Regions from separate parts of the Homo sapiens genome. Here region 1 is linked to region 2. Evidence: fine-mapped expression QTL. A gene starts in region 2. The other region holds a variant in brackets. All regions are shown on one strand. Distances are from middle to middle.

Evidence for each region. PIP is the estimated chance that this variant, and not a neighbour inherited with it, causes the effect.
Region 1: its variant is fine-mapped to the expression of IFNG-AS1 in whole blood (INTERVAL, PIP above 0.99).

Annotation. Positions count from the first base shown.
Region 1 is chr12:68,019,950-68,025,181 of GRCh38, reverse strand. IFNG-AS1 (IFNG regulatory antisense RNA 1) reads right to left here. Exons shown (of 4, transcript NR_104125.3): 4 at 3,869-5,232. Among named protein-coding and RNA genes, the nearest start is that of IFNG-AS1, 33 kb to the right of the region's middle. The variant T/G (reference allele first, on the strand shown) is at 3,186.
Region 2 is chr12:67,986,772-67,992,274 of GRCh38, reverse strand. IFNG-AS1 (IFNG regulatory antisense RNA 1) reads right to left here and starts at 2,828. Exons shown (of 4, transcript NR_104125.3): 1 at 2,696-2,828.

The DNA of each region.
Region 1 (5,232 bases), 33 kb before region 2:
AGACTCTATACACTCTCTGTTTTATAGCATAATTCCTGCCACTTAATGCCAGCTGCTTTGTAACCATTTTGTGTCAGGTATTGTGCTAGACTCCAGGGATTACAAGATGAAGCAGCACAGTTCTAGTCTTCATAAAGGTTAGGGAGGACTGGAGCTCAAGCTGCATGGTGGGAGTTGCTAGAGGTAAAACTGAAAATTAGGAAGGTCTCGTACACCATATTGGATGCTTCAAGTCTATCCACAGAGGAATGAGAAGCCATTGGAGAGCTTAAGATGGGAAGTGGCATGATCAAATTTCCAAATCAGAATGATTTAGATTGCATAAATTATTTTCATTCAATGCATATGTGTTGAGGGTCTGTTTTGTTTCAAGGACCCTTCTCAGTGCTACAGGTACAGCAAGAAACAAAAAGTCTCAGGAAGTTTACAACCTAGTGGAGAAGACTAGACAATAAACAAATAAAAATGCAATGTAATTTCAAGCAGTTGTAAATATTTTGAAAGTAAATAAAGGAAGGTAAAGGAGTTGAAAGTCATGAGGTGTGTTTAAAATAGAGTTAGGAAAGCTCTATTAAGAAAGTTACATTTGAGCAGAGATATCAGTGAAATGAAAAGGGGGGAGACACATCCAGAGAGTTCCAGGTGGATGGACAAGGACGAACACATGCAATGGTTGTGACACCAAAGTGAGCTTTGGATGCTTGAAGAAAGTCAAGGCAGCCAAAGTGACTGGAGTTGAGTGAATGATGGGGAAGAGTGATATGTAGTAAGGATGGTGAGGTGGGCAAGGGTAGATGAATGTGGGTTGTAAAATGGAGTTGAGTTTTATTCTAAGCATAATGAGAAGTCACTAGAGATTGCAAATTAGGGAAGCAATGGTATCTGATTTACTTTCAATGGTATCTGATTGACTCTGGTGGATGTGTGAGAAATGGACTGTAGCAGGGCAGGAAAGGAACCAGTATAACCATTTAGGAGACTATTACAGTAGAGCAGGCAGAACAAGATGGCAAAACCTGGAGTCCATAGTGGAGGTGGTGGGATATGAAATTGGTAAAACACACATAACTTCCTAATGGATTGGATGTGGGGTATGAGGGGAAGAGGAATCTTAGATGATTCCTAAAATTTAGCCTAAGCAATTAATCAGTGGTGGTGCCATTTCCTAAAATAGGAAAGATTGTGAGAGGGGTTGTTAGGAACTGAATTGTGCCCTACCCCTAAAATTCCTGTACTGAAGCCCTAACCTCTAATGTGACTATATTTGGAGATAGGGCCTTTAAGGAGGTAATTAAGGTTAAATGAGATCATAAGAGTGGGTCTCTAATTCAATATGGTTGATTCCTTATAAGAAGGAAGAGACACCAGAGATATGTGTGTGCAAAGAAAAGGCCATGTGAGGACATAGTGAGAAGTTATCCAAGGAGAGAGATACCAGGAGAAACCACTGCTGGCTCCTTGATCTTGGACTTCCAGCCTCTAGAACTGTGAGAGGATAAAATTCTGCTGTTTAAGTTTCCCAGCCTTATTTTGTTATGGCAACCCTAGCAAACTAAAGAGGAGTGAAGAGATAGTTAAAAAAAAAAATGAGGAGTATCCTCTTCGACATATTGAGTTCGAAATACCCATTAGGCTTCCAAGCAGAGACTGAATAGACAGGTGTACATATAATTCTGAGGCTTAGGGAAGATGTTGAGGCTGGAAACATAATGGAAAGTCACAAGATAAGGACAAAATTTGTTATAGGGGAAACACATAATCCCCAGTCTTTATGTTTCTATAGGAAACCTCCATCGATGTTACAATTGTGACTTCTCAAGAGTGACTATTCCTAGGGGAGAGGAATCGTCACAACTGATTGGTCAGCTTGGGAGAAAGAACTCAGCATTAATGGTTCATTCATTTTCTTGTATCTGGAAGGGCATATCTGCCTTCAGAGAATATACATTTTTTAATCCTCCATGCTGTAAGTTTTTCACACACCAATCTGCATTGGAGGAGGCCTGTGGTTGCCCAAATGTTCTTGTGTTTGTGTGGGTTAGTAGGTGTCGCAATCGTATTTTCCAATATAAATATTTTAAAAATAAGTAATAAGGGTAACATATTTATCTCTTCTCTTTGATTCCTATCTCTATCTTGCGATTGATTCTAATGTCATGGTTGACTAGATGAAGTCATCTGTTCAGTAGTTATTGATAGAGAACTATCTGCCTGATAAAGTGATAGTGAGAAACAGTTCCTGGCACATAGTAAGTAATGGTAAGCTACTCTTCATAGACAGGAAGAGCTGGATATATGGGAATGAAGCTAGTTAAACGGACTGAGCTGGAAATATAGCAATATTGAGAAATGAAAGCCCAAAAGAGTATATGAGTAACTAGTTGGGAAACTGGAGAATGTGTCTTTATGTGTATGCATGAATGTGAATGCACCAGCACAGTAGCTGTTGTAGTAGTGGAAGGGCAGTTAAACATACAAAGCTTTAATGATGACTATTAAGAAAATAATGTTTGTATCATGGTAATATAAAAGGTGTTGAATTTCTTGTCTCAGTTAGGATTTGGAGCTTTATCAGTTATCCATTTCTCCATAACAAATCCTGATTTAAAACACAAGAATTTATCTTGTCCTAAATTGCTATGCCTTAGCAATTTGGGCTGGGCTCAGCCAGTTGGCTGTTTTGCTGGTCTTGCCTGGGGCCACTTATCTGGCTTCAGTCATCTGGCAGCTTAACTGAGGCTGGATGGTCTCACTCACATGGCTGAAGGTTGGCTCTCCTTGTTGACCAGGTGTGGTCTCTCATTCTCATGGAGGCTGGCCCAGGCTTCCTATCTCACAGCAATGACAGCCTGAAAGCAGAAGCTGAAAGGCCTTTTGGTGCTGAGACCCTGAAGTCATATGATGTCCCTTCTGCAGCCTTCTGTTGGTTTTAGGCAAGTCACAGGGCCAAATTAAAGGGAAAAAGAAATGGACTCTATGTCTTGATGGGAAGGGGTGACAAAGTTGCATGGCAAAGAAACATGTGCACAAGAATCATAAGAATTGTTGTAGCCATCTTCGTAAGCTGATGAACAGTAGTCTGATGGCACATTTCTTGTGTTGTTACCATATGCTCACCAAATAGAATCTCAAATGTATAAAAACCTTCCTACCACCAACTATGCCCAGAATAAGAATTATACATG[T/G]TATGCTATGTGTGTGTCAAAGGTAGGAATAAGTAAAAGTGCAAGTTGATCCAGAGTTTGCACTTTGATGTGGTATTACCTGTGGCCAACTCTCCCTTGATGAGAATATAGGTAGCTGGCCAAGTGGAACAAGTGTTTTTTGTTCAGGATGTTTCTTCTACTCACTTCCACTATATCTACTTTATTCATATTATCTTCGGATCCCAGCAAGGGCATATGAAGATAGAGGCCATGCAGTAGATTCTGTCCAAGAATCCAAAAGCCACATTTTCCTTGGTGTAGAAGTCAAAGATGACCCTGTTCTGTGATGGGCCACAAAATGTTGCAGAGACCTTAGGAAGATTGTTTTTTGCTGTTTTTAAAGCAAAACTTTACTTGATTAGCTAGGGCCTCTGATTTTTCAACTCTGTTTTCCTTTCAGAATTTGAATTCAAGAAAAAGAATATCTTAACAGGTACATTGAAGCACAGCTCAGGTGTCAGACTGTCTGAGATCATACATTTAATGGCTCTGTGACCATGGAAAAGATAATTAACCATCCCATAACTCAGTTTCCTCAAGTATAAACTGATGACAACAGTAGTATCTACTTCATGCCGTTGTTGTAATAATTAAATCAGTTAATACCTGTAAAGCTGTTGAAATAATGCTGAACATACAGTTAGTATTCAAAAGGTCTTAGCTATTATTACTGTTGTTGTTTTATTGCTGTTGATCTTTATATACCATATAAGGCATGATGAAAAATTACAGAAATATAGACAAATATTCCCATTTTTTAAATGCTTGTAGTTAAATTGGGAAAACAAACTATGTATATATAAAATATTTAGGGAGTAGTTAAAAGACCATATTTGAGAAAAACAAATACTTAGACTAATAACTCACATGATTGCTGAGGATGATCAGTATGGGGAAAGATGATCAATAAAGGGATGTGCCACTTAGGAGGAGAATTTTGGGAGAGACACCGAAGAAATGGTATGTGGCGGGAAAATTGCCAGTGTGCACAACTGCATTCAATTACCCAGCTTCCTGCTCCCCCATGCTCGAACGTGTATATGGGGAAGTGGTATATGCTTTTCTATTACTCAGACTTGGTTCTTTGAAACACTCCCACCCTACCTTTTAGAGGATGTGTGTCAAAAGTGCAGTTACTTGTCCCTTTAACATAATACCAGTTAACTCATACTGGGTTGCTGTTTTTGTTGTCACTTCAATGGGTGAGTTTTCCACAACACTATCAACTTCTTTTTAAGGGAATATAAGAGTTGATTCAACGAAAACTCTGTTGGCTCTTCTTGGTGAAGAGCAAAGGAATTTCTTAAGCTTTGAACACTCTGCCCAGATTCCCTTCTCTGGTGGAAGTATGTGCATAAGTCTACGATTGCATTTCTTTGCATGTCTGAAATTTTATGTGGCAGTTTTGCCAACAACTCCAAATTCTTAGCTTAATCCACCTTAGAGGTTGTAAACATTTATTTCCACTTTTAGTCCAGCGACAAAGAACTTTTGGCCCTCTCTCTCAAGATTTTAATGTGTTGGTGTGTTTGCGTGTATGTTTTAATATTTTGGTGTACAAGAAACCCAAATGGTTTCCTGTACTGTCGATGTCAAACTGATACCTGTGTTCTCCATTTTAATCCACACTGAACACTATACAAATTGTCTTACTAAAGCACAGGCCTGATTATACACTTTCCTTTCAAATACTCTTGATGGCTGCCTACGGCATGTGACATGTGACATTCAACATGTCACATGTCATGATTCGTGTGTCATGCTTCATATGTCATGATTCAAGACATGATTTATCATGTTTTGATTCTGCATGCTGCAGGCAACATGTGACATGTGACCTTCAGGGCCCTTCACAGCCTTTTCCTAGTCCGGCTTTCCAGGCATCCTTTACCCTTTTCTAATCTTTTGTGAGTTCTTAGGCCTCGGTTGCTTTGATTACACAAACACCTCTCAGTAGAATGACTTTTCCTCTTTTCTTTTGGTCCATTTTCTGAAGACCCTTCAAAGACTTTCCCAACTGGCCCCT
Region 2 (5,503 bases):
ACATGGATAAACCTCAACAATTTAATGGTGAATTACCAAAGCCAGATATTAAAAGAAATGCAAAGTATGATACCATTCATATAACATCTAGGGACACAAAACAATACTCAATATTATTTGTAGGTGTCTATGGAGCATAAATACAGAAACATCACGGGAAGATAAACATCAAATTCAAAATGTGTTTACTCCTGGATACAGAGACAGAGAGAAAGAGAAAGAGAGAGAGAGGAAGAGAATTGGCTTGAAAGGTAGTACATAATTAGAGTCAACTTTAACCTTTCTTTCCTTGTGAAAAATCTGAAATAACTATGAGAAAATAACTAAGAGCAATAACATGTAACAAAGCTGGATGACAAGCATATGGACACTTATTATTTCATTCTAGATAATTTTCTCTATCCTTGAGCTATTTCATTTAAAACAAACTTTTCAAGGTCACAGAGCTAAGAGATGGCAGAATTTGTTTGGTTTTGTATTAGGAAGTCTTGTTTTTTGAACCTGTTTAAGAGACTTCCAGCTATTTAAAAGAGAGGAGTCATGTGAGGGCATAGTTGCAGTACGAAGTACTGACTGAGACCTCCCTGGTGCGGAGAAGCCAAAGAGCCTTGGCAAAAGTTCTGGGTTTAACATGGCCCATCTTGCGGGCTTTCCTTTGAAGATGCTTTGCCCATTGGATCAGCAGTCTTAGCTACTAAAACTTTCCCACAAGTGATCTTATTATCCTCATTCATTAAGGTGGCAAGAAACAAGATTTTCTCTAGCACTCACATGTGCATCGGGGGTCTGTCTGGATCTAGCCACAGTCGAGCATCCCCTGGTCTCCTGAGTGTGCCCTGTGAACTGCTCCCCCTCATCTCTACCTTCTTAGGTTCTGCCCATTTTCTAGAGCCAGCCACACCTCTCAACCCCACGGGGGCTTTCCCAGATGCTCCAACCCTATGCAGTCACTTCCTTTTCAGAACCATTATAGCAGCTCATCTGCCACTTAGCATGTGCCGTCTTTTATTTCAGATCTTCTTAAAACCTAATAATCAATACACTTTAAAGCTAGGAGCAGTTTTACAGAACACATAATCCAATTTCCTCTTTTTGCTAATGAGAAAATGGAAACCTAGAGATACTTGGTAAATAATAGGACCAAGTCTAGACTCCATCCCTCCTTTGCCATTATCTGGTATCATTTTACTGTGATATGTGTGTGTCCCGAGAGGATGTCAGGTTCTTTCTGGACAGCAACTTGTTTGAAACTATAGCATGTTCATATTGGATCTTTAATAGCCATATGCACATGGTGACATGGTGCTTCACCAAACCACATAGGGCAGGTGGAAGATAAATAATTTCTTGTGTAGAACAGAGTTTAAAGTTAAAAAAAAATTATTTATGTAGCGGTGGCTCATGCCTGTAATCCCAGCACTTTGAGAGGCCGAGGCGGGCGGATCACGAGGTCAGGAGTTTGAGACCAGCTTGGCCAACATAGGGAAACCCCATCTCTACTAAAAATACAAAAAATTAGCTGGGCATGGTGACAGGCACCTGTAATCCCAGCCATTGGGAGGCTGAGGCAGGAGAATCACTTGAAGTCAGGAGGCGGAGGTTGCAGTGAGCTGAGATCGCGCCACTGCACTCCAGCCCGGTCGACAGTGCGAGACTCCATCTCAAAAAAAAAAAAAGTATTAATGTATTTCAAACCCTTAGGTGTATAAAGTTTCCTTTAAAAAAGGATTAGAAAGCTTCTATTGGTCATATAAGATGTTCAGATGTTTCTATTTTTGTTACTACAAGCAAAACAAAGCTAATCGCTCTTAACTTTGTTCCCTTAATTCACTGCCAAAGGTGAGCTCAGAGAGGATTTATATGGACCAGTTCTGACCATTGTAGGTTAAAGACATTTCTTTGAATTTCAGCTGAGAAACATTCTCCCATGCAGCCCTTTTACCAGTTAAGTTGAATAAGCTTGACTTTGTAGATATTGTTTTTAGTTTCATTTCAGAAAAAAAGAACATTAAGAAGTCAATTTAATAAGCAAAATTATTTACGTGATTTAACTTAATTTGGCAATATGGCTGGGAAAATACAGAACAAAACAAAAGCAAATGTAAGAATACATACTTGGAACTGAACCAGTAGTGTTAGCAGTAATTATGCAATTAGTAGTTTTAATTACAATTAAAAAATCACCCTAAATTATCCAAGACCTATGATATGTGACATGGCACTCACCACCTTGAACAACTTCTCTGAATTCATTTTAAAACTGAGTACGGCGCCCATGGCATTTTCTTCCCAACTCATCCACCTGTGACCATGTTAAGAAGAAATTCCCTAGAATAGTTCAATCAAAGCTTACTGTGAACACTCTCACAACTTAATCAATGTTCTACATGTTCATTTCAAGGTTATTCTGAGATCTCAGGAAGGGTTTGTGAGCTTCCTGAAATAGAAGAAGTCTCAGAGGAATTCATCCCCCTGAGCTCAGTGGAGACATTCCAGCCATGCGGGTCTCCTTCCTCCTCTCCACCCCAGCCTTCCTCCTTCTTCTTCCTCCCTCACAGCAGAGATATGACAAACACCACCCACTTACAGTTGGTTCTCCTAATTCCACCCACAGGAGCTAAAAACCTAAAGAAAACACATTTATTTGTTTAAAAATGTAATTTACAAACAGCATTTTCATGAAAAATGTTCTCACCCTCGTTGTGCTAGTTCGTTGTATCTTTTTCTTCCAGGCTTATTCCTTCCCAAATGACTACAGTTTTTGCTGGCATTTCTCTGAAGGTATACTTGAGATCTCTTTAAGAGTCAGAAAAGCTACCTGAAATTGCAGGCAGCTTCCTGTTGGGCTCACGTTTTGCAGAATCCACGCTTGGTGTGCAGAAGGTGGGCAAGGTGTTTGAAAAAACAGGAAGCACCTGTGAATGTGTGAATTTATTTCTGGAAGCAGAAGGCTCCCTCTGAGATGGCTCTAGATGCTTCCTGCTGTTCCACCTATGAGCATTTTGCAAGGCCTTTCAGTACTTTGGGGCTATGAACAGGCTTCCGAATGGCAGGATTATTTGGAAAATCTGGGACACGGTGGGAATTCTGTTTTTTTAATGCAACTTTTCTGTTTTTTTCATGCAACTTTTTTCATGCAACTTTCTTTTTGGGGGATATTGGTTGATATGCGTGGAAATGAAGGTAGACTTTTAATTGCAATGGGGAAGTTAAAACCAAATGAGAATTAGAGATGTATGTAGCTTTATAAGTGATTTTGCTTTCATAAGATCATGTTTGTACTCATTGATTCCTTTACTCAGTAAACAGTATTGAGTGCAAGGCACTGAGATACTCCCTAGGAATCCACCGGAGACAAAACAGTGGTTGTGTGAAGTTTCAGTCCCCTGTTTCAGTCCCAAAATCACCTACAAGAAAGTGTTGTATTTCAAATTTGCATTTTTATATTTGCATGTGTCTGTATGATTTAGTGATGTGTTTAATTGAAATGCTACTGAAATAAGTCTCCTCCTCTGTATGAGGTACTCTAAACTACTGTTGGTGGCTGGCTATTCCAGCTTGGGCAGCCCCTGCCTGCCTTTTCAGGTCATGCATTTGGTGACATTAGTGGCTAATTAGGTTAATCCTGTTCCTTGACTGGAGAGACCACAGCTAATTGCTATCCTGTAAATACACTCTTGGCTGTAGATAAACTGGACTGCAACATGTGTCTGGATTCTTGAAGACCTATTACCAGTCTTTGAGGAAAAAGTGTCAACAGCTTCTGTTCTACAGTTTTCAGTAGCTTTATTTTCATATCTGAGCAAAATCTGGCACAGAGTAAAGAATACAGCTCCCTCCCTCTTTTATATGTGTGTGGCCTCAACAGGTCACGTTGCAGCCAGTTTGAAAATCTCCAAGTAAACAGTGCTGATTTGTTGGTAGACTACGCTGGAGAAAATGCAGAGGGGCTGGGGAGAAAGAAACCTGGGTCTAAAGTTTAGCTCTGCCACTTACTAGCTATGTGAACTTGGGCAAGTCATTTAGCATTTCTCCAAGACCACCTTTTTTTCATGTGAATGGAAATAATTCTCATACTTACCCAAGCAAGTATCATGAGGACAAATTATATAAAGTTTATAGAACATTATATAATATACATCCCCAGGTTCTAGAGATGGATTAGGGTTTGAGCCAAGAGGCATGGGTTTGATCTTGGAAAGGTCATCCTGGCCCTCTGTGCCCAAGACACCTCTAGCATAAAGATTGAACATGTCCTGTATTGGGCTCCTACGGATTTACTGAGCACCCATATATGGTAGTCACTGAGCCAGAGACTATTGACACAGATAGAAGTGTCGGGTTCCTGTCCTCAACACAAATGAGGTTCCTCTATTTTATATCCGTTATTGGAAAAGGAGAGGGAAGATTTTCTAAGGTTAGAATGAAATCCTAAAGTAATTAACTGACTGCCAATCATTGTTAAAGGGCACTTTCCATATTGTGTTATCAAGAGCACTGGCAGGCACGGGCAGACCAAGGCCTTGACTGGCTCTTCCACTTCTTAGATGGGTGACTTGGGGCAAGATACTTCGTTTTGTTAAATCTCAGTGTTTTTTGCAAAATGTGGGCAATAGGAGCACGTTCCTCACTTGGTTCTTGAGAAAATTAATTGAATTAATAGGAGAGAAAGAGAAAGAGGGAAAGAGAGAGAGAGAGAGAGAGAGATTTTCTGTCTCCAACATATGCAAATTCTATTTGCATATGTTGATACATTAGTCTGTTTTCCCACTGCTATAAACACCCAAGACTGGGTAATTTAAAAGGAAAGAGGTTTAATTGACTCACAGTTCCACATGGCTGGGGAGGACTCAGTAAATCTACAATCATGGTGGAAGGAGAAGGGGAAGCAAGCACCTTCTTCACAAGGCAGCAGGAAAGAGAGAGAGAGAGTGAAGGGGGAAGAGTCCCTTATAAAACCATTAGATCTTGTGAGAACTCACTCACTATCAGGAGAACAGCATGGGGAAACCGCCCCCATGATCCAGTCATCTCCCACTAAGTCCCTCCCCGACATGTGTCAGTCAGTATATTAGGCATTGGAGATACAAAGACAAAAGAAAATTCTGGACTTCAGTTGAATTACAAAGGAAAGCATGAATAAGCAAATTGATTAGTACATGATGAATGTTATAAGGAAAGCCTGGAAAAGGTCTCAAGAACAAGAGGAGAAATTTTACTATTCTACCTGGAGGAGGTAAAGTGTTAAGAATTTATGATTAAAGGTGTTCCTAAAGGTGGACCTCAGAGGCCAAAAAAAAAAAAAAAAAAAAAAAAAATAGGGTAATCAAGCTGTCCTCTTATCTATTATCCCATGGGAAACACTGACCAAACAGGAGGGATTTCAGGACATCATTTCCTAGTCAATGACATCTGGGATTTTCTCAAGTTACTCAGCAACAGACAAGTGGTTGAGATGAAACAGGCATGCTTGGGTTTGGAGAACCTCATGCTTTATAAACTA